Linked DNA regions of Homo sapiens. The protein of the gene in region 1 purifies or fractionates together with the protein of each later gene. This does not show direct contact. Each region holds a gene or a part of one and is shown in the gene's direction. Other genes may lie near its edges.

What was found. Proteins that work in one complex are often made in the same cells at the same time.
Region 2: the proteins of P2RY1 (region 1) and GPM6A purify together in Homo sapiens (affinity purification with mass spectrometry; 2 studies listed by BioGRID and IntAct, with this or other methods). This does not show direct contact.
Region 3: the proteins of P2RY1 (region 1) and SLC19A2 purify together in Homo sapiens (affinity purification with mass spectrometry; 2 studies listed by BioGRID and IntAct, with this or other methods). This does not show direct contact.

Annotation. Positions count from the first base shown.
Region 1 is NC_000003.12:152,828,813-152,838,130, forward strand, and holds the start of P2RY1 (P2Y purinoceptor 1), read left to right. Parts: upstream 1-6,318; 5' UTR 6,319-6,970; coding exon 6,971-8,092; 3' UTR 8,093-9,318. UniProt on the Homo sapiens protein: Receptor for extracellular adenine nucleotides such as ADP. In platelets, binding to ADP leads to mobilization of intracellular calcium ions via activation of phospholipase C, a change in platelet shape, and ultimately platelet aggregation.
Region 2 is NC_000004.12:175,801,891-175,809,688, reverse strand, and holds part of GPM6A (neuronal membrane glycoprotein M6-a), read left to right. Parts: intron 1-926; exon of another isoform or gene 927-1,088; intron 1,089-2,717; exon of another isoform or gene 2,718-2,824; intron 2,825-3,609; exon of another isoform or gene 3,610-3,763; intron 3,764-7,798. UniProt on the Homo sapiens protein: Involved in neuronal differentiation, including differentiation and migration of neuronal stem cells. Plays a role in neuronal plasticity and is involved in neurite and filopodia outgrowth, filopodia motility and probably synapse formation.
Region 3 is NC_000001.11:169,475,571-169,483,368, reverse strand, and holds part of SLC19A2 (thiamine transporter 1), read left to right. Parts: intron 1-5,611; coding exon 5,612-6,214; intron 6,215-7,798. UniProt on the Homo sapiens protein: High-affinity transporter for the intake of thiamine. Mediates H(+)-dependent pyridoxine transport.

The DNA of each region.
Region 1 (9,318 bases):
CACATAAAACCTTGCTACTCAGAATGTAGTGGCTGGATGAGGAGCTTGGATGTCAAAGGGAACTTGTTAGAAATGCAAACGCTTTGGCCCCATCTCATACTTAAAACTGTGTTTTAGGAAAATCCCCTGGGTGATCTGAATGCACATTCAAGTGCGTTCACTTGAGTGAGACTCAAAGTAGATGTTTCCAGTGAGGAAATTAGTATTTTACTTAGGTAGTTATTATCACTATGAGGATCTGTAAGATAAATATTTAGCTGCGGTATCAGCTGTCTAGAACTAAGGCTGAAAAATGAAGAAAAACAAAACTAATTTGAGATACTGAGGTTCTGCTAAACTCTATCATCGAAAACATAAGTATATCCAGAAGTAACTGATTATTGTTTGCCTGAAGCATTACCTAGTCTCTATGTTGGTTCTTTTCTAACTACAAATAACTGTTTATATATTGATTTTATTTTATAAACAATGTATGGGACTATTTCTTCTTACTAGGTTGACTCATTTGGTGCTGTCTTTGGCTACCCAGATATCTTTCCATAAGAATGTCTAAATTTTGGCTTGTTATAAGAAGACTGTCTGGAATTAACTTATTTTGCCAGCTTTTCCAAAAGAATTTCAACTAAAAGTAGCACCAGAATAATTTATAAAGACGGATACAATTAATGCTCATCTTTTTAAAGTTAGTTTATATTTTCAGTGCTACTGGTGAAAATTTGTCACCAACTCTTTGGACAAACAAATTCCAAAATCTGAAAGGTGACACCAACTGCAATTAACTTTAATCTTGAAAAGTGTGAAACATTCAGGACATAATTGAGATCAACATCCCAGGAGTAAACTGATGGAAGATGTGACTTACATAAGAAACACAGGGGTATTTCTTTATTCTTACACATGATTTTCATTTGCTTACTTGGAATTAAGCTTATGTATTCAAAATACAGATGTACCAAACATCAGTAATTGACATATGATAGATGTAATAATGACAAATAACTCTCAAATAATGTCATATTTTTATTCTTGGTGGTATCATAGGAACTCCGTATGGTTTCATAATTATGGTATAAGACCAAAGATTTAAGCAACTGGCTCTAAAGATACTTGTGTACCCCCAGGCTTTATAAATATTTATTTCTCTGTTTTCTTAAAATGCTAAGTATATAAGGAAATTGTAGAACAGCTGGCATGTAATACAGGATTTCTAGTCTGTTATCAGTAAATGTTCTAAGACACACCTTTAATAAAACAGAGATGTCAAAGACAAAGACAGCAAAGGAAATTTTTATCAGAAAAGGATGATTAAAGAAAGTTCTACAAGACAGGATGGACTAAAGTTTTTTACTCTGTATTTTAACAAAAATGCTTTTTGAAAGTATTGTAAAGTGCTCAGGACTAGGGACTAGGGCTTCATGTAGATGAGATAAAAGAAGTAAATATTTTAAAAAGAAGTATAAGAAAGGAGTTCCCTTGAATACTTATTCTTAACTTTGGAAGCAAGAAACTTTCTAAGGATGGAAGAAGGTTTAGGTGGCCTGGGATCTGACAGGTACTTGTAAGTGAAAAGGCACATATAGAGAACTTAGCTCAATGACATATGATTCAATAGGGACATTGGCCACATGACTGCATAGCTTGCATCATCTCACCACCTTCCAGGCACCTCCCAACACACCCAGATTTAAACCTAAATAATAGAAAAGCTATGCTCAGTGATATTTCCAAAACCTTCTTCCTATGCCTGTGCAAGTATCTTGCTTTCTCTTCCTCTGTCCCCCAAATACTGTTCAGGCACTATTTCTCCTCCTGTACTTCCCTCTTCCTCCTCCCTCTCCCACTTCTTCCTCTTCTTCTTCATTTCACTGTCTGCTTTTTATTATTATTATTATTATTATTATTATTATTATTTCCTCTCCCCTCTCCCCGCTGGCCTCCTGTTTCTTGCTCTCTTGCTCTCTTCTCCCTTTTTCCTCACTCAACTTCAGATCAATCCTGCTGGGTATATTCTGTGTCCTATACCCCTGCTGTGATTCTTAATGAAATAAATTTCAGGAAGCCTACTGATTGGATCCATGACAAGTGTATAATTTATAGGAGCAGCTGGGCCCTCCTTGGCACAGGACAATCCTAATTTTTTCTCTGTATACTCTCTTTCCAATTCTGCTCCATCTTAGCCTTCTCCTTCTCCTACTTCATTGGTGGACATCAGCTGGGAATTCCTTACACTTCTCCTATTTCTTTCTCTTATTTTCTTCTTGGGGAAGGAAAGGGTCTCCTCCCTTTCCTAAAGTGAATCTCAGAAGTTCAATTTAGAAGGATATCCTAATGATATCCTTCTAAAGGATATGAGATGAACCTTTATCTCATAAATCAGGGTCTCATCGTCTCTCCTCCGTAAATCCTAACAGCTGTCTTACCTATCAGCTCCCAACTTCCTTCATATTGCTACCAGAATTAGGTTTAGCATTTGTGGTATGATATTTATTTAGTCAAATCTGATGGTTTTTTGGTCTCTACTCAGATGGGAGATTTCATATTTTATGTTTATGAGAAGTTTCTTTTTCCCTTTTCTGCCTGTGGCCCTCAATTGGAATTTTTCCAATGATTTTCCCATTCTTAATGATTGTTGGATTTTCTGTGGCTTAAAGAAAAAGAAAATAGAGATTTTCTAAATATGGTGATAAAAATCTTTGTAAACATAATAAGGGCAACCTTTTTGTTTATGAGTCTAAAACTCAACAGATCTGATGTCCCAGTGATTTTCTCTCTCAGATTATAGGTAAATCGCTGGCTGTTTTTAAGAAGCCTATGTAGAGAAGTGGAATATTTAGAAGCTTCTGAAATACTCTTTGACTATCAATAACTTCAATATCTGGCTTAGAATTTTCTCTCCTGAGGGAAGGCTTCTGGGAGTAACGCTTTCTAAACGCAATCTGTGCTGGCCACTAAAAGTTAACGTTTCTCTCAGTGCCCCGTATTTGCTTTTTTTCATCATGGGATAGTGGCTGAATGCATAGACTTCAGTGACAAACAGCCTACATTTAAATCCCAGTATCTACTGTGTGACTATGGGTGAATTACTTAACCTCCCTGTACCTTAGTTTCATCACTTATAAAATGGGAATACAATGGCCAAATATCATCATGCATATTTTAAGGGTGAAAAGAGATAATCCTTTTTACATGTACACAGTACTTGAGTGTACAGCAAAGGCCTATTTTTATTGCTATTGTTATATTTACTATTATGGTTAGCTATATATATTATTTGCATTTCCAACTAAATTGTAAATCTCTTGAAGTCAGGTTCTTACACTGCTACTTAAATATAAGGGCATAAGAAGGGCAACCTTTTTGTTTATGAGTCCAAGACTGCCATTAAAAGTAATGGCAGGCCGGGCGCGGTGGCTCATGCATGCCTGTAATCCCAGGACTTTGGGAGGCTGAGGCGGGCGGATCATGAGGTCAGGAGATCAAGACCATCCTGGCTAACTAACACTGTGAAAACCCCGTCTCTACTGAAAATACAAAAAAATTAGTCGGGCATGATGGCGGGCGCCTGTAGTCCCACGCCAGGCAGGAGAATGGCATGAACTCGGGATGTGGAGCTTGCAGTGAGCCGAGATTGCGCCACTGCACTCCAGCCTGGGCGACAGAGTGAGACCCCGTCTCAAAAAAAAAAAAAAAAAAATTAACATGGAATGCTTAGGGATGTCACTTAAATATGTAAGAATTTTTTATCATGTCTTTAAGCCATCTATAATTGATGTTCAAATGTGAATAATGATTCTTAGATTTTTTCTTCATTAATAATAGTTGAATGTTTTACAAATAGAAAGTTATAGTAATTACTGAATATATGTAACTTATTCCCACAAGGCAAAATTTTGATTTAAAGCATAACTGAAACATAACTGTGTAGTTAAATATGTTGAATGCAAAAGCAATGCTTACAAAGTTTGTTTATTTATTTATTTATTTATTTATTTATTTTGAGACGGAGTCTCACTCTGTCGCCCAGGCTGGAGTGCAGTGGCTCGATCTCAGCTCACTGCAAGCTCCGCCTTCTGTGTTCACACCATTCTTCTGCCTCAGCCTCCCGAGTAGCTGGGACTACAGGTGCCCGCCACCACACCCGGCTAATTTTTTGTATTTTTAGTACAGAGGGGGTTTCACCGTGTTAGCCAGGATGGTCTCCATCTCCTGACCTCGTGATCTGCCCACCTCGGCCTCCTAAAGTGTTGGGATTACAGGCGTGAGCCACAGCGCCCAGCCCAAAATTTATTTTTTAACATCATTTTTTAAAAAGTCTGTGGTGCACTTAAAACAACTATCCCCCAATTCCTAGTAAGGTGTCAGTTTTCTGCAAGTACTTAATGGTATCTGGACTAAGTGTACATTTCAAAACACTCACATTATGAGTTAATGCATTTGCAACAAACTTCTGAGTGAAGTCAGATATTGCCTAGGTTGCAAATAAAAAATGCAAAGGAGTGAGGACTTAAGACCTATTGAGTACCCCTGGAACCCTTAATGGTTTTCTTTGCTTCCTTTTCTCTCTTAATAGACAATCATCCCACCTAGGACCATACTAATCAAACAATACACAAATGTTTCATGTTAAGGCTCAGAATCATAGACTCATATAATCAGGAGATTGGAAGGAAACACAAAAAGTAAGACTTTTCAAGACAACCTCATTCACACTGTTTACTTGAATTATTTACTCTTGTTTTATTATTAATTTTTATGCTGTTCAATTGACTACAATTCAAAACCCAGTGTATTCATACCATGTGCTAAGATATGCTCCTTCCTATATGTGTTCCTCTAAAGAACCATCTGGATCTTGTGGGGGATATTTTCCTTTGTGGTATCAAAGCCAGGAGCTCGTGGTTTTCCTTTATTTTTTAAGGGAACACTATCATGTAGCATCTGGGACCAGAAAGAAATCTTGATGTTATATATTTTACAGATATTTTCTTTTTGGATTTTTTTTCCTCTAAGAGAAAAGCTTTTGTTAATGTGTCATGTAAAAATACATTAACTAGTAACTTGTCAAGAAGTGCTAGATTCCATTCTTGTGCGGGTCCATTTATATATGTTCCTGAACAGCTAATATTTCATTTAGTTTCCAATTAAACTTGCTCAAATACATTTTTGAAGTGCATTGCTTAAAATTTACATTCAAGGCAAGAAAACGAGTTTGTCAGTAAATGTAGTAATTAAGGAAGTCCCAAGTCTGTATTTTTAAGATACTAGAGGTAATTGTAACTAATCACTTTAACTTAAAGAAATAGAATTGGAAATACCCCCCTCCCCCCGCCACCCCCTACCAAAACCATACCTTAGTCACTTTGGAATTATAACCGTCTTTTACGTCTATCAATATAAATGTATTGCATTTGGCATTCAAATTACTTTCAAAGGGATAAATTTCGAATTTTTTTTTTTCATTGTAGCTTCTGATCTTTAAATGTACTGAACAGGAGGATTTGGGGAGCTTGTCTTGTCTGATAGGTGTTAAGTATCTATGACGACAAATTTGAGCTGAAGCAATGTGCAATATGGACTAGTAATATCTTCACAAGACTATTTTGGAAATTCTCACGTTGATGTTATTAATGACGTGGGTTTATTAGCATTTGGGTAATTAAGAAAAAACAGTACTAGAATTTAAAAAAAAGAAAAAAAAAGGTAAGAAGGGCGAAACAGAGTTCTCCACTCCTCTCCCAACCCTCATTCCTTTGGAGGCTCGCGCCCTCTTGGAATAGCAGGTTCCTGCATGTGCCAGAAATCCGGTCCCGGCAAAGCTAGACGCTCTGCAATGACAGGCGTTCCCAGCTAGGGACTCCTGGCTGCTTGGAGCTTGAAAACACCTGGCGTGGTTCTCGAGGGCCCTAGAGGCTCCTGCTACGGACTGGTCGGCTCTGGGGTTGTAGGCAGAAGGCTCTAAGCGGTCGGAAGGGTTTCCTGTGTGTCAGCAACTTCACTTTGCCGAGATAGCTGGCGGAAGAGGGAAGGAGCGCTCGCGGGCCAATCGCCTGCCAGCAGCCACCTTGGAGCGCACCCCTCTCCCTCGCCGCCGACTCCGGTAGCAGCGTGCCGGCAGAGGCTGAACACACTCGGCCTCGGCGGAGACCTGCTCCCCAGAAGACGCCTCCTGCTTCCCACTGCGCCCTGGAGGACGCGGGCTGGCTGCTGGGCGAGCTCGGCGGAGGCACGCCCCTCGCCTCCCCGCGGAGTGCGGACTCGCCCCGGTGCCCAAACTCCGCCCACCCTCTAGGGAGCTCCGCTCTCCCGCCTAACCCCGGCACTCCGGACAGAGCTGGGCCTGGGGAAGGGGTTCCTGAACTACGCGGACGCCGAACGGGACGCGCTGCAGAAGCGCACGAGTCTGCGGCCACGCGCGCTCCGATGGCTGCCAGGAGCTGAGCTCAGGGTGGGCGGAGGAAGCGGTTAGACGCCCCGAAACTGAGCTGCACGTTTCTAAGGTAGGGAGGAGGAAGATGCCCCCAATTAAGTTGATCTTTGAGCCAAGGAGGCTGGGGAGCAGCCTCCCCAAGCTAGAGCCCTGCAGAGCGAGTTTCCCTTGACCTCGCTGCGCCTCTGGCGCGCTCTGCAGCGCGGACCCGCGGCCCCTCGGGAAAGCGCAGTCGGAAAGTTATCCGCGGCGGTTCCCTGCGCGCCCTGTTGTGTAAGCTCGGCGTTGCCAGCGGACGGAGAAGTTGCTGGCTTGCCCGATAGCCCAGTTCGGTGGCGGCCCGGGGCGGATTTCATGGCCCGCGGCGAACGCGGGGCCAGAGCTGGCGTGGGCGAGCCCCTGCGCGCCCCCTCCCGCGGGGATCCAGTTCGCCTGCTCCCTTCCGCTCGCTGGCTTTTCCGATGCTTGCTGCGCCCCTGGCCGCCGCTGCCCTCTCGCCGCCTCCTACCCCTCGGAGCCGCCGCCTAAGTCGAGGAGGAGAGAATGACCGAGGTGCTGTGGCCGGCTGTCCCCAACGGGACGGACGCTGCCTTCCTGGCCGGTCCGGGTTCGTCCTGGGGGAACAGCACGGTCGCCTCCACTGCCGCCGTCTCCTCGTCGTTCAAATGCGCCTTGACCAAGACGGGCTTCCAGTTTTACTACCTGCCGGCTGTCTACATCTTGGTATTCATCATCGGCTTCCTGGGCAACAGCGTGGCCATCTGGATGTTCGTCTTCCACATGAAGCCCTGGAGCGGCATCTCCGTGTACATGTTCAATTTGGCTCTGGCCGACTTCTTGTACGTGCTGACTCTGCCAGCCCTGATCTTCTACTACTTCAATAAAACAGACTGGATCTTCGGGGATGCCATGTGTAAACTGCAGAGGTTCATCTTTCATGTGAACCTCTATGGCAGCATCTTGTTTCTGACATGCATCAGTGCCCACCGGTACAGCGGTGTGGTGTACCCCCTCAAGTCCCTGGGCCGGCTCAAAAAGAAGAATGCGATCTGTATCAGCGTGCTGGTGTGGCTCATTGTGGTGGTGGCGATCTCCCCCATCCTCTTCTACTCAGGTACCGGGGTCCGCAAAAACAAAACCATCACCTGTTACGACACCACCTCAGACGAGTACCTGCGAAGTTATTTCATCTACAGCATGTGCACGACCGTGGCCATGTTCTGTGTCCCCTTGGTGCTGATTCTGGGCTGTTACGGATTAATTGTGAGAGCTTTGATTTACAAAGATCTGGACAACTCTCCTCTGAGGAGAAAATCGATTTACCTGGTAATCATTGTACTGACTGTTTTTGCTGTGTCTTACATCCCTTTCCATGTGATGAAAACGATGAACTTGAGGGCCCGGCTTGATTTTCAGACCCCAGCAATGTGTGCTTTCAATGACAGGGTTTATGCCACGTATCAGGTGACAAGAGGTCTAGCAAGTCTCAACAGTTGTGTGGACCCCATTCTCTATTTCTTGGCGGGAGATACTTTCAGAAGGAGACTCTCCCGAGCCACAAGGAAAGCTTCTAGAAGAAGTGAGGCAAATTTGCAATCCAAGAGTGAAGACATGACCCTCAATATTTTACCTGAGTTCAAGCAGAATGGAGATACAAGCCTGTGAAGGCACAAGAATCTCCAAACACCTCTCTGTTGTAATATGGTAGGATGCTTAACAGAATCAAGTACTTTTCCCCTCTTTAACTTTCTAGTTTAGAAAAAAATCAAACCAAGAAAATAGTGAGTTAAAAAAATAATAGAAGTAGAAATGCCCACATCCACACTTAGCTTGTTTGGGTTTGCTTTCACAGTCTCTCTTCCTTCTGACTAGAAGTATGTATAATAAAACAATACTACCTAGTTAAACATTTACTTTCTCTTTTGCCTTTAAAATGTGCAGGCTTTTCTGTTTAAAGTGTGTGTGCACATGAGTACTGGGGCTGTTTTTGATATTAGTAATTTCTCTAAGAAAACTAGCCCCCTGCAACTTGAGTTTGTGGTTTATCTAGCCTTTATTGTTTTTTTAAAATCCACAGTAGGAATAAAAAATCTATATTCTCAGAAATATCTAGCATGGTATATAACAAAACACTAAACTCATCAGTTCATCCGGCATCAGATCAATGGATCTCTGAGCGGGGTGTTTTTTTCAGTGTCTTATAAGCATAGATGATAGTTGACTGAGTTTCTTTAGGGCATTGAATAGACAAGTAAAGCTAATGAATTTAAAAGCCTGAAAAGTGATTGTTTTCCAGTTATTTCTGGAAAAGGTCTCATTATATATTGGGTGCTAAATGTTTGATGGGGAAAGCCTGCATATATTATCGTACTGGTAAAATGCATTCAAAATAATTAAAGTGCATGTATTTTCCTTGTAAACACCATGAGCTCTCTTAGACATCTTGTGATAAAGAGCATTTACTTGCCCCACTGCTGTGCAATGCCTTAGGACTTTGTTTGTGTTCCAGGACAAGTGTTCACTCACATCTGTAAAAACAATTTTAAGAATTGCAAATAAATTACAGACCAAAGATTGAGTAAAGTCAAATAACTGTTAGTAAGTTGAAGGATATTGGACAGGAGGACAGTATTTCAGAAAAGGAGAGGTTGACAGTCATCCACAAGGCATAGCCTCCAAGTATACTCTCAAATGTATGAAGCAACTGGGGTGGGCAGAAGACATTTTAGAATGAGGGCTTTAGTTTAAATTAAAGTCATGGTGGAGAAGACTCTTGCTTCCTCCAAGTGTTTGAAAACACAAAATGCGATATGAAAAGAAGAAATAGAATTTGTATAGGTTGCATTGATAGAATGGGAAGCTATAATCTTTGAATAAACCTTACATCTCAA
Region 2 (7,798 bases), on another chromosome or scaffold:
ATCCTAATTTAAGCATATGTGTTCAGTCAGAGAGAGAGGATAATTTAACAGTATGGGTGACTTCACCCACCAGCCATTGTGTTCAATGAGCCCATGCCTGATGTGAAACTGAAATGGGGATCATTAATCTGTTGCTCCAGCAATTTCTGACACCCTCCCCAAAAGTGAGTATCTCATTATGCTGAGGGGAATCTAGTATTTTAAGAAACATATTTTTTGGTAAAACATGGCCTCTAAATGAAAGCCACTTACTTCATCTTGTGTGCAGCCAAAACAATGATATTCTAGTATAGAAAAAAAAAAAGGAAAAAAAGAAAAGAGTGTTTTGAATTTGGTCTTTACTATGGCCATAATAAACCTAGCATCATCTGTCACCAAAATCAAGAGCCATTGTCACAAAATCATGGCAACAAGGACCCCAGTTACTACAGAGGGGTTGAGCAAAGTGAATAAAGATATTTTGATGAAGATTTAACAGGTAGGCGTTTATGACTTGTAGCCATGCAACTGTTTCTAGAACATTTTGCCAAATCTTACGAGAAAATACGTAAATGATTTTTGGGTTTCTAATTAGGAGTGAATTGGTGAATACACATTCGGGTGGCCAGACAAGTGGGTGACCATCTCTTCATGGACAGCCCTAATGAAGGCCTTGCTGAATTAGGAGGGCTTTACAGAGGAAGGCTGATGAATCAATAAGTAAAGGGAGCAACAAAACTGTATAGAGATAAAAAGAAAACAGCAAGGGACAGAAAGAGCCAGCAGGTTGGAGTCTTCATAAATTGGCTGAACTGTTCCAAACAGCCAAAACCCTGATGGCTTTAATTTCTGAACATGAACATTTTATGAAACAGGTCTCAAAATTACATGGAGTATACCAGAAAGTTTTGATCAGCACAAAAGATAACAGCCACAGTGTCACTCACCTTATTTTTCTAGTGTAATAAACCAGCAGCTTATGTGAGTCTGTGCTGTCCATATCAACCACTGACTTTTCCAACACCAAAGCCCCGCCTGCCATCGCCTCAGTGGAATCAATTCTTGGTGACTCTCAGGGACTGGGTCACTAGCAGATGTAGATGATCAAGCTGAATGTGATCAAATGACCAGTTCCATCATTTCAAACAGCAATATACAGCCAAAGTTCAATGGTCATTGTTCATCCTTAGCTCAATAGCACTAACCTATTTGTCATTTCAGCGTATCTTTAATTTATTAAAACCAACAAGAATACATAAATGAAAGGAGAGGGTACAGGTTTATTTTCTTTGTTTTTCATATCAATGTTAATGTTGATCTATCTCATTATTTAAAATACTGTACAATTATTGTTGACAAGAGACCCCTTCATCATATACTTTATACATTTATACACACATATTACTATAAAGGAATCTATGCACACAAGGATATACTGTATATTGTACTTAATATAAAGTATATTTAATATACAGTACAGCTTATAGGCTGACTAAAAGTCTCTTCAGACATTTTTTGTGTGTGTAAGATTATTTTTATCTTGAAAGATGACTCTAGAACCTCACCTTTCCTTAAGCAGACATCATCCCTGAAGAAGAGACACCACTATAATCAACGAAAAAAAGAGGCAGCTTTGGCTGTAGGAGACTAGGAAATATTGGCCAACCTATACTGCCTGGTGATTTCAGTTCCAGACACTGGCCTAAGGACTTTACCTAAATGAACTCATTGGCTCTTCACAATAACCTTAAGTGGTACTAATGTTGAGGAAAATAAATACCAAATAGATTAATTGACTAGACCAAAGTCACATCGTAGTAAATAGTAGAGCTGGGCTCAATGCAATCAGAATGAGTCCAGGTTCTGAACTTTCAACCCCACTCTCTACACTAGATGGCCATAGCTGCCTGCCTGGCAGCCACACTCCTTCGAAGGACTGCCTCCCCCACATGCTTCCATTGCAGTCATCAGCTATGATCTGCAATTTATGGTTGTGTTCCTTACCACCAACTCTGGCTTCTTTTCTTTGCCAGATATGAAAACTTTTTCAAGGGCAGCCAATCTGTAAGTGCACTAGCAATCTACGACTTGTAAGTCGTGAATTGAATCCAAAAAGATGAATTGGTTCAATTGGCCTTCTTTCTTGAGAACGGGGAAAAGATGACTCTCAGTATGCTCTGAGGATCTCTTTATCCCACGGCAAATTTTAATAATAACTATGCTGCCCCATCTTTCAGCTACTCTGGGTGAATCTCTATTCTTTGCAATCGAAAGACCTCTAAGTAAAACAAATCTTCAGATCCTTTTAGGAGTCTTACATAAAGAGGCTTACTGCTAAGAAATTTTCCCTGAGTTTAACCTGGTGAGTCGAAGCTGAATCAACTGTATATTTAATGTATTAAATTTCAACTTTGACACCAGTCTTTCTTTAGTGTATTCTTGATGATTTTGATTTTTTTCCCTCACTGATCTTTGATTTTTTACAATTTAAATAAATTCGTCCCTAAATCATTGCCTACCAGTAAGTATTGGTAGTATAATATTTGGAGAACTATTGCAAAGAAATTAAAGAGACAGAATGTGTCTGGTTTATTAATAGATTTATAATCCTTAATATGTCATTGAAGTCTGTAGACTAGTGGCTAAGAAAATAACAAAAACAACATCAAAAATCTTTAAGCAGTCATTTAAGTGTAAGAATTAATAATTTGCTTCTTAGCTGTTGGCTACTCACAGACCTATGAAAAGGGAACTGATTTTATCCATCTAGTGGACAGACTTCGTCTCAGCAAATGCTGTCACAAATCATCTCTTCAGCTGCCATTTCTGCATTTGGATAACAAGGCTAAAAGAAACATAGAGAATCAGATTTTATAAAGCATATAGGAAAAATCTCTCCTAAGATTTCACAGCTGTGCTTTTACTAGCATTGTGCTTAACCTGAAGTGTCCTCCTGGGCGTAAGAAATTACTTTTACCGCTTGGTATTTTCAAATGTAGTTCTACAACATCTGTCAGTAGGGAAAATTAGTTATATTTTTAATAAAGTTCAATAGATATTCGTAGAACTTCTGCATTGTTGTGGTTATTATGTCTGCTGTGGTTTAGATATAACATTTTAGAATTTTGTCATTTTATATTTTCCTTGGATCAGTTGCTAATTATGGTTTCTTTTAGTGTCTGTGGTACTGTTTATCTCAGAGATCCAAAATATCAATAACACATTTCTAACATCTTGTTCAGATGAAGGATATGAATAGATTTTTCACAATGTCATTAAAATGAGTGAATTCACCTTTTCAAATGAAAGTGCTTGATATAGTTACTTCATTAATTCCTTGAATTAAAGTTTAAATATTTAAAGAGACTAAATGAGAAGTACAGCGTGATAGATAGATAGATATTGATAGTGTCCTTGGAGTGATGGCTTCTAAGACATGATTTTTAGAAATTAATTATTCCTTAATTCATCAGAAGACAATGGCTCATGAGAGATTCATAGGATACAGGAGATAACTTCTAGTTTGTCCATTGCGAACTCCATTTTCCCCCAAGCAAAAACCCCTCCCCACCATTCAAAATGTTTGACAGTTTTCTTTTTCATACATCGAAGGCAGACTGCCTGGCTTACTTTCAAAAATCCTTTTGGATAGCATCCATACTAACAGGTGGCACAGCTGTGGATTAGCTGACATTATAAAAATAATTCATGTTTTTCCATGTGCTTTCAAGTTGTGACCATTGTCTTGGATATTCTTAATCCAACAGTAACTTACTTCTTTGTACTGTGAACAACATAAAGAAAGAAAAACAGAAGATAACTGATTTTTTTTTCAAATTGTGAGTGGGAAATATAACTTTGGTCAAAGATGAGACTCAGTTCCTTATTGGAGTCTGTTTATAGAGTTTACTAGGGAATTAAGTTATAATATGAGGAAATCTGAGGTCAGAGAAAAAAGGAAGAATGACTGTCGGCTTTTAAATGATGTGTATTAAGAGATGTCAACATGTTAGAACATTAACTGCTGTATATATCCAGATTGATTTCCCAAAGAAAGAAAGACACTTTCTTACATTGTTTCAATTGTTTAATGTTTTTGGACTTAAATTTTTATCATATGAGAAATGATGAGTTTTACTTTACTTACCTCCATCAAAGAGAGGAATTGGATGAAATCTATCCCTGAGAATGATGCTAGAAACATAAAAGAGATTGTTCATATTGTCTCCTAAAAGGGGATGGTCATGCTTTTTCTTGGTTATCAAGTAAAAGTGAGGCAATTAAAGTATTTTGCTAATTAGCATTCTTCATTGATTTATAATAGAACTTTCAATGTCTGGGAAACTATTTTCTACATTTTTATGGTTGCAATTAATATTCCCCATTAGAAAGGTTATTTGAATGGTGAATTACCTATTCTTTCTTAACAAAAATAAAATATGGGAGAAAAACTTTACACCTGTATTTATTCCGATTGTTGTTTTATGCAACAAAGTTTAGTTAATAATTCAAATAAAGAACTAGTACACGGCCAAATTACCTTCCCCCCAAAACTTGACAGCTTTTTTTTTTGAAAAAAAAATTTTTTGAGATTCTTCTACACATTTCCTGTGTTGGTGGATATCCACTTTCATTTTGTTTTTGTTTTGTTTTGTTTTTGTTTTTTTGAGATGGAGTCTCGCTCATCGCCCAGGCTGGAGTGCAGTGGGCTATCTTGGCTCACTGCAAGCTCGACCTCCCAGGTTCACGCCATTCTCCTGCCTCAGCCTCCCGAATAGCTGGGACTACAGGCGCCCGCCACCACACCCAGCTAATTTTTTGTGTTTTTAGTAGAGACAGCATTTCACTGTGTTAGCCAGGATGGTCTCGATCTCCTGACCTCGTGATCCGCCCGCCTCTGCCTCCCAAAGTGCTGGGATTACAGGCGTGAGCCACCGAGCCCGGCCCACTTTCATTTTTAACAGCCTATACCATATCAGTTTTTCTGTTCAGTTTCGTTATTGAACATCAGAAACATAATTAAGTACTTTTACTAGCATGATTTATTTGTCAAGGAAAATATTAATAATAATAGCTAATATTTAATAATCCAGGCACTGTTCTAAGCATTTCATATGCAGTGTCTAATGTCAATATATCTTAACACTAGTTAATAAATATTGATTACAGCTTTTTAATAAATATCAAATGTTCTTTGACTTTACGGTCACACTATTTAGTCAAGGGCCATTGGGTTCAAACTCTACAGGAAACTAAGAGAAAACCTCACACAAACATCCAGAGAAAAAAAGAATTGTCATGTAACAAAATGAGGTAGTCTTCCATTTCAGTTCCAAGAAAGATTATGAGGTGGGCAGAAGGGAGAATGAGCCAAATGATTTCTCCATTTTTCTAGTTAAAAATTTATTTTTCCCACAATAAGGGCATTTAAATTCAAATTTTTGGAACCACAGACTGTACATTTGAGTGGCAGTAAGGAATTATATTTATTTTTCTTCAAACACCTTTCAATATTTCAATATTCAATAATAGAATTCATTATTAAAATAAGGATTGAGCAATGTTTGAACAATGGAACTCTTAGATATGACACTGAATGTGGTTTGTCAATTTAAAACCAACCATAGGCTTTGAGAATCTCTGTTTTAAATAGTACCAATGTATTACCAAAGCCAGATTCATTTAGTGGTTTATTGTCTCAGAGACGTTATTTTAGTTTTTCATCAAGTTAAAAAAAAAAACCATTTTACAGTGAAAAGAATGCTTTGAATATTAGTCAGAATAATTGAACTTAAAGCATTTTAAATCTCTGCTCAACCTTTCACAGTAGAAAGTTGTAATTGAGTCATAAGATCTAGAATTCAGAAACCACCCACTCAGATTGTCTCCATGAATTTTAAATATGTATAAGGGCCAGGAGTTTTTCAATTGACCATCATAATGAGTGGCCAATTGACTTTTGGTTTCCCAATCAGATGACCTGTGTTAAAGCCCTGGCTCCTTTTCTCCACCTTCATTTTCTCTGTAACTTAATCTGTGTTATTCAACCATATTTTTTTCAAAATCTCCATTTTGAGAATTAATTTTCTCTACCATTATCTTTGGGTTTAGGTCTGTTTAATGTGAGTTAGATGTAATAAAGACTAGGTAAAAGCGCCTATTACAATTCCTGGAACATACTAGGAGTTGAGTAAATGCAGATTCCTTCTCCATGTTTCCTTTCCTCTCATCTTAACACACTGTGCCCATTTAAAAAGGTGACCAAGCAATTTTCCTTGAGTCAGAGAGTCAGAATTAAAGGACTAATAACTTTTTCGAATTGTTGTAACAGTTATTTCTTAAATGTTTGTCACTTACTATATGGCATATCTTACTGTTTTTTCTTATGTATGTGTTATGCTGTAGCTCCATTCTCAAAGTACAAATTCCTGAAGGGTAAAGTTTTTATCGTTTGTTCATGAACCCAACCTGCAAAGTGCTCTGAATACAAACCCATTCATAGCTGATGATGATGATGATGATGATGATGATGATGATGATGATGAAACGAGAACAGGAGGAGAAAGAGAAGGAAGAGGGGAGGGGAAGAAAAAGAAGAGGATAAAGAGGAAGAAGAAGAGGTCAATTGTGCAGACTAAAGAAAGAATAAAACACAATTTTTCCCCTAAATAGAGACAGATCTAACAGAGCAGCTAAACCTGGCTTGGGAGAATGCAGCAAGGACTCCATTTTATGTCATTAGATTTGAATTAAAAATAATTCTTTTATTCTTTGACCTGAAATATATTCAGTAGTTTGGTAGCAGCTTTCTTGAAAATGAATAGATTTTCTTTTTTTATTATTAAAGAGCCCACACATATTTTTAGCATTGTGATTCTGGCAATGAAGTCAAATACATTAAACTGTCAGATTCAGCAAATGGTTACTGAAACTTGGAAAATTATGTCATAATATTTTATAATACGCTGTTAAAATTTAACAAAGTAGTTTACAAATTTGCTGACACTAGGCTTACTGTGTTCATTCATAAGTATTGATCAAAGAAAACAAAATTACATAAGAAATAACAGTTTGAAATCATTGAGGACAGTTTAATAAGATAAGACCTTTTCTAGGATATGTTTAGTAATGTTCAAGGTAATGAATTTAAAAAATAGCATGCAATGAGTAATCAATTTTCTTTTGCCTTCTTTTACGCTTTATTTTAGTTTTTGTATTTTAATTGGTATATAGTCTCACACAATTGGCTTATATTTTAGATGGGATCAAGACAGTATCTGAAAACAGGGCATTTGAGCTCTGGTCAATGGTATCGGAAGAGTATTTCCATCTAACCTTTCAATGCTCATCATATTCTCTCTACAATTTTGGTGTACTAAGTTTTTTGATGTATTAATCACTAATTTGTGTTTTGAGATGAACTTGTGATACCATTATTTGGTGGAATTGAGAATGAATTCTTGTTAAACAACTGAAATAACTTCATGTTTTATAGGCCAGTTGTATAGCCAGGCTGAAAAGTATAATCTTGAAGAAAGATAAGCTTATTTATTTATGTGTTACTTTTACATAGTAACTTTTTTTTGCAACACTGCACGAAAATTTAATTCACAAAGAGACAGCAAGCATGTATTTCCATGATTGATCTCTACAACACTGTTTAGCAACTTTGAACCCCCTCCAAATGATTGGGATCTGCTCATTATACTTATACGGAGTGTAGTATGCTTACCAAAGGTCTAAAAGGAGCTACTGATTTATGATACATGTGGTTCTTTCATATCATCTGTGTATCAAGAGCGACCACTATTTTACATAA
Region 3 (7,798 bases), on another chromosome or scaffold:
ACTTATTCATTACTTACTGAATGCTTGTTTTTTGCCATGGACAGTTAAATAAAAAAAATTACATGATTTTTAAGCAAAGCTAATGCTAAGTCATATTCAGCGACATTTGTATTAAAGTTTGTATTTGCTCTTAGAAGACTGCAGAAGGGCCAAGTTGGTTTGAATAGAGCTATTGTTAACTAAATCCTAAAACAAAAGGAGAGGAGAAAAAGATTTCTTCTGTCTACTCTCAAAAGTTTTTTTCTTAGATTTCAGGAAAAGCATTAATTTTAAAACAGATACCAGTGTGTAAGTTTTAAGCAGGCTAAAATTTGACTGTATGTTAATAGTTGAAGGCCAGACTTTCAGTAAAACAGATCTTTATCTCTAAAAACTTTTTTATCCTTTCATCATTGTAGCATGTGTTTTGACAGACATTTACTACCTTTCTTAGATTTTTTTAAACATTCCACCTATTTTGCCTGATATTCAGAGCCTCACGAAGTTTGGTTTTTACCTCCTTGACAGCCTTATATCCTACTACAAACCTTCTTCCCCTTACCACTTCCACATAACCAAGCTCCATTCATATTAATCTAATAGTCTTAAGTCCAGCATATCCACAGTCTCATCTGTTGACATGTACTCAAAGACTTATTCTCTTCTTGGAATAATCTTCCCATATATATCTGTTGATATCTTTGTTAGCCTTTAGGTTTCTCATCCTTCAAGGTCCATTTTGAAGAAACAACCCTGTATTTCCTATTTCCATTATAAATACTGCATATATTATATATTCCTCACTAGGTTCAATACTCCTGGAGAGCTGAGGATCTCAGTTTATTTATTTAGAGACAGTCTTGCTCTGTTGCCCAGGCTGGAGTGCAGTGGTGCGATCTCGGCTCACTGCAACGTCTACCTCCCAGGTTTAAGCGATTCTCATGCCTCAGTTTCCTGAGTAGCCAGGATTATAGGCTTGTGCCACTACTCTCAGCTAATTTTTTATATTTTTAGTAGAGTCGGGGTTTTGCCATGTTGGCCAGGCTGGTTTTGAACCCCTGGCCTCAAGTGATCTGTCCAACTTGGCCTCCCAAAGTGCTAGGATTACAGGCATGAGCTACAGTGCCTAGCCTTATTTTATTCTTTTTTTTTTAAATTTTTTAATTTTAATTTTAATTTTTATTTTTTGAGATGGAGTTTCGCTCTTGTTGCCCAGGCTGGAGTGCAATGGCGTGATCTCGGCTCACTGCAATCTCTGCCTCCCAGATTCAAGTGATTCTCCTGGCTCAGCCTCCCAAGTAGCTGGGACTACAGGCACACGCCACCATGCCCGGCTAATTTTTTTGTATTTTTAGTAGAGATGGGGTTTTGCCATGTTGGCCAGGCTGGTCTCGAACGCCTGACCTCAGGTAATCTACCCACCTCGGCTTCCCAAAGTGCTGGGATTACAGGCATGAGCCACTGCGCCTGGCCATTTTATTCTTTTTGTCACCTCCGTGCTGGTTGAAAACAATGTTGTGCAAATAACTGCCTATTAGTTGTTTAATTGAAACTTGATTCTAATTTAAAGCCTAAATCTAAATTAGAACTTAAAAATGAACATCTGTTTTCCCTTGACTTTGTAGCTCAAGAAAACACAAGCACTGATCCAAAGAGTTGTGAAAGGCACCTTGGTCATAATAAAATCAATTCCCGTTGCTCACATAGCAGATGTTACGTGAAGTGAGAAGTTGGAGTATGGACAATTAATAAGGGTCTGTAATTGGTACATTTTTGCCTGTAGGATGTTTCCCTTCAAGATTCAAAATATCAAGGAAGCATTTTTTGCTGTCATTGGAAACACTGAAAAAGAAAAGGATCTGCCTTGGAGACCCATTAGTTAAGTGCTGGAGACTGTAGTCTTTATCTCTTCATGAATGCCCTGTAAAAGCACCTCAGTGCAGATTGGAAAAGCTACTGCAAGCATTAGAATTAACCTGGAAGATAGTAGATGATTAATAGCAGTTTTCTGATTGAAGAAACCAGGCATTTTAGTGTGGCGGATTCAGAATTTATGAATTCAGATCCTTCTTCTGCCAATCCTGTGATAACTTGGGACAATTCACTTAACCTTTCTTTAAGGCCAAGTTTCCTTGTTTGTAAAATAGAGATGATAGAAGCATTTACCTTAGGTTTGTGGTTTGGATTAAATAGAGAGAATTTAGAGAAAGTGCTTAGCGTGGTGTGTAACACAGCAGTAGAGGTTTGTTATTATGATGCTGATAATAGTGTGAGTGGGGCATTCCCCCTGGGTTGATGTCTTTTAAAGGAGAAAATGCAGGTTTCTTATTTAGAATAAGTTAAAGAGAAACTATCTGGTCTTCCCCCTCTCCCCTATTTGCCTTTCTTTTTGTTTTTAGTTGTTATTGCAAGGTTGGCAGTGTTACTCTCCTCCATCTTCATTATCTAAATTGTAGTTTTGTAATAGTAGAATTAGACTCATGAGTAAAGATACGTTAAATTGATAATTTAAAGGATGAAACTTAGACAATGAAAACTTAGCAGTTAATCATTTTGGGACAACTATGGTTAAAAGTTATGTAACATGTCTAAGCACAGACAATATTATTGGAGTGAAGAGGTCATCCAAAATCCCAAAACAAAGGAAGATGAACTATTGAAGGGAGCAGTAGAGGACATTTTTAAAGGAAAGGTTTAATGGCTAGTACTTCATGGTGCTATGTTGGGGAAATTGTGAAGGTGACACTTAGTCAAACAGAGGAGGCAGTTTCAAACTTTAGAAAATGGACAGGCTGGGTGCGGTGGTTCACAGCACTTTGGGAGGCTGAGGCGGGCGGATCATGAGGTCAGGAGTTCGAGACCAGCCTGGCCAACATATTGAAACCCTGTCTCTCCCAAAAATACAAAAAATTGGCCCGGCATGGTGACAGGCACCTGTAATTCCAGCTACTCGGGAGGCTGAGGCAGGAGAATCGCTTGAACTCAGGAGGCAGAGGTTGCAGTGAGCCGAGATCACGCCATTGCACTCCAGCCTGGGTGACAAGAGTGAAACTCCGTCTCAAAAAAAAAAGAAAGCTGACAGATAGTATCTGTAAAAGTATAGGCCACAAAGGAATGACAAGTTGTTAATTAGAACACAACTGGAAATCTCAAGATTACCCTTACCTGCTTTGGTTTTCTACTTAGAGTTATTTAATGCAGCTAAGGGCACTTTTTTCCTCATTTGCTAAAATTTCCACAGTTTTGAATACGAATCATTTCTACATTTCTTGATTATTCGTTTAGGCACATAGTCAGGTGCAACAAAATTTCCTGATCAAGTGGAGCTTGCTAACTGATTTACCAACACAAATTAGACCAAAATTCATGAAGGTGAGGCCATTAAACAGATCACTTTTGTCTGGAATGTATTTCAGAAAACAGGGATTATGTTTTACTTTTATAGCTATGCTCTGCACTGGCAAGAGATTTTGCAACAATTTTTTATTGTTTGCCTAAAACCTTAGAACCTTAGCTCATATTAGACTTGAGTGAACTGAGATGTACAGGAAAGATAAAAAGAAAGTTACTATTGGTCTCAGAATGTAAAAGTCTGGGATTAGGTTGCTTCATCACAAAGTATTCAGCCTTTTACCAAAACTACCTTTCAAAAAGCACTTAAAAGTTGAGGCCACTGACAAAAGGAAGGAAAAATCTCCTACAGTGATTGTTGTTGGAAGAATGGGAATGATAGCTCAATTAATTTAGTTAATTCATACTGCCCCAGATGTCCTTGTCAGCTTGTCCTCTAGTCTTCAGACTTTGTGAATAAATCAGGTGGAGTAAGTAATTTACATGTTGTGTCTCATTTACTTTTTGCAACAAACAACCGCCCTTTACTGATAATGGAGATTAAGGCTAAGGGGAACTAAAAGAATGTTGTCTACAATCACACAGCAAGTGATGGAACTGAAATTCCTGTTGGGGTCTTTCTGGTTTAAAGTTTATTTTAAAGATCATTTCTACTATATCCCAATTTTAAAATATGCATTAGAAAGAAAACAGCAAAAACTTCTTTTTTCTATTTAAAAACAAGCAAAAAGAAGGACATAAAAGTTGCCTATATTCCTGCCATCTAGAGAGACTTAATTCTGTCAAGACTGTAGGACACATTGACCATCTTTATTTGTTCCTCTGCCCCAAAAGAAACAAAACTTAAAGTCAGAGAAGCTTAATGAAACAGTAGGATAAAGGCTCCCTATCTTGTGTCTAGAAGTAAGAATTGACAGTGATTCCGTTTTCAAAGCATTTATTGAATAGTATCTTCCAAACAGTATGCTGGCTTTTAGACAGGTTATACAGGTGAATGTAGGGGTCTATCCTTAAAAAGCCTATAAGGCAGTTGTTCTCAACTCTGGCTCATTTAAAACTCTATTGGGAAGTTTTTAGAAAATATCTGTGGCTGGGCATTTTTTTTTTTTAAAGAGACAGAGTCTTGCTCTGTCATACAGACTGGAGTGTAGTGGTGTGATCATAAGTCACTGCAGCCCCAAACTCCTGGGCTCAAGCAATTCTCCCACCTCAGCCTCCTGAGTAGCAGCCATAGGCATGTGCCACAACGCTTGGCTAACACATTTTTTTAAAGCTTCTTAGGAGATGCAGCCATGGTGAAGAGCCAGTATTATGAATTAATTGGGGAAACTGATGCATATAGATCAGTATTAGGAGAGTTTGAGGCTAGGCCAGATGGCTCACATGTCTGTAATCCCAGCAGTTTGGGAGGCTGAGGCTGGTGGATTGCTTTGAGCCCAGGAGTTTGAGACCAGCCTGGGTAACGTGGTGAAACCCTATCTCTACCAAAAAAAAAAAAAAAAAAAAAAAAAAAAATTAGCTGGTTGTGGTAGTACAGGCCTGTAGTCCCAGCTACTGGGGAGGCTGAGGTGGAAGGATCACCTGAGCCTCACCTGAGGCGGAGGTTGCAGTGAACCATGATTCTGCCACTGCATTCCAGCCTAGGTGACAGAGGGAGACCCTGTCTCAAAAAAACAAAAAACAAAACCAAAAAAAAAAAAAGGGTTTGAATGTTGTAATACAAGTACTTTTGGCTTCCGCAAAGTCTTTCTGAATAAGGAAGTCTTTGAACTAGGCCTTGATTAATGGGAAGAATTTATTAGGAAAAAGATGATGGTATTGGGGATAGGAAAGGATATTTCAGGCTGGGCGAGGTGGCTCACCCTTGTAATCCTAGCGCTTTGGGAGGCTCCTCATTTGAGGTCAGGAGTTTGAGACCAGCCTGGCCAACATGGTGAAACCCCACCTCTACTAAAAATACAAAAATTAGCCAGGCGTGATGGTGGGTCCCTGTAATCTCAGCTATTCGGGAGGCTGAGGCAGGAGAATCACTTGAACCTGGGAGGCAGAGGTTGCAGTGAGCCAAGATCGTACCACTGCACTCCAGCCTGGGCGCAGAACAAGACTCCATCTCAAACAAAAAAGAGAGAAAAGACATTTTCAAAGTTATCTGAACTGCTGTTGTCAAGGTTGAGATCTTTGAGGTATTTGTAGGTTGTTTTTTATGAATAAATTCTTTATGAGTATTCCAGGTCCTTTCATCACTAATGTTTTTTGTTTTTTTTTTTTCTCTTTCTACCAGGTCTTCAATGAAATTTATCCAGTATGGACTTACTCTTACCTGGTGCTACTGTTTCCTGTGTTCCTTGCCACAGACTACCTCCGTTATAAACCTGTTGTTCTACTGCAGGGGCTCAGCCTTATTGTTACATGGTTTATGCTGCTCTATGCCCAGGGACTGCTGGCCATTCAATTTCTAGAATTTTTTTATGGCATCGCCACAGCCACTGAAATTGCCTATTACTCTTATATCTACAGTGTGGTGGACCTGGGCATGTACCAGAAAGTCACAAGTTACTGTCGAAGTGCCACTTTGGTGGGCTTTACAGTGGGCTCTGTCCTAGGGCAAATCCTTGTCTCAGTGGCAGGCTGGTCGCTGTTCAGCCTGAATGTCATCTCTCTTACCTGTGTTTCAGTGGCTTTTGCTGTGGCCTGGTTTTTACCTATGCCACAGAAGAGCCTCTTCTTTCACCACATTCCTTCTACCTGCCAGAGAGTGAATGGCATCAAGGTACAAAATGGTGGCATTGTTACTGACACCCCAGCTTCTAACCACCTTCCTGGCTGGGAGGACATTGAGTCAAAAATCCCTCTAAATATGGAGGAGCCTCCCGTGGAGGAACCGGTAAGCTCAGCCTTAAATATCTTGTAATTGCTACTATGGGGGCTGGACCCGTGGTGAAAAAAACAGCAAACTCCCTCTTGGTAGATCTTGTATTTATTTGGATTCATGTTTTATCCTGAGTTGGTTTATTGCTTTATTCATTCATTCATTCATTCATTCAAGCTATGGTTTATTTATATTAGGGATGACACATTTATTTTTTCCTGGAGTGCGTGACCTCCAAAGTCAGACTGATACAGCATTATATTGTTCATGTCAGAGATGCCTTGGATTGCAAGGGCTGTGTCTTCATCTTTTGAGTGTTTGGCATATAAATAAAGCACTCAGAAAATTGTTGCTAAATGAGTAGATGAAATGATTCTAATAAATGATTAAGTATCTACTTCTAGTTTCTGAATTGAAGCCCAAATTATTATTATTATTATTATTATTTTTGAGACAGAGTCTTGCTCTATTGCTGAGGCTGGAGAACAGTGGTGCGATCTCGATTCACTGCAACCTCCGCCTCCAGAGTTCAAGCAGTTCTCCTGCCCCAGCCTCTCCCTAGTAGCTGGGATTATGGGCGCTCGCCACCACGCCCAGCTAATTTTTGTATTTTAGTAGAGACGGGGTTTCATCATGTGGGCCAGGCTGGTCTCGAACTCCTGACCTCAAGCAGTCCACCAGCCTCAGCCTCCCAAAGTGCTGGGATTACAGGCGTGAGCCACCGCACCCAGTCATGAAGCCCACAGTATTTAAGGGTAAGAAGTTAATTTCCTCTTCTGTGCTAGAAGGGATATCTGTTATTTATTTTTCAAATGACAATTTGCTGAAGTGAAGTAGTAATGAATAATACAGACGAAGAGATCACAAGAGGACAGTTTGAGGTGGTGATGGAATAAATAGTAAAAGTGTGTTATGAAGCTGTCTCTTGGAAGAGAGAGGTATGGCATTAAAATAATTTATCCATCTGTTCTGTCTAGCCAGGAAGATGAATTCCTTTCCCTAGACACCCACCCTTTTTTTTTTTTAAATATTCAAGTGTTTTTTTTGTTTCTATTAGGTTATAAGCTGTGAGGAACAAAGTTAATTCCAGCCACACTGTAGTCTTAGTTTTCCTGGGACATGTTTGGAAATAAGCCTATTAACATTCCAGCTTTGTAGGTGGCCTCAGTCGGACTGAGCTCCATAAGCTTTGTAGGCTGGCTGATAATAAAGAACCATTATGAGTAAAGTCTTTCATTCTCTACTGAGAGTTAACTGAATTGTTTAAATGTGGCATCTAATGTCCTCATTGAAAATTACTCTCTTTTCTCTATCCCCGTTCTTCAGCTCTCAAATTACTACTTGAAATTTAGGTTATCATCCCAGAGAGCCTGGGTAGACTTGTAGAGCCTGGGCAACCCTCATCATGAAACTCACCTTGATTACCAGGGCACCTGTGAGCACTTTTTGTCAGAATGACCAAGGATTAAGTGGCAATGAAATGCTGATTTTTTTCATAGTTTGTTAGGTGATATTAGAGAGTCAACAGAGGGTTGATGGGGGAGGGAAGGAGGTGTGTAATCATTTCATAGATTTTATGAAGTGGAAAAAAAATAAAGA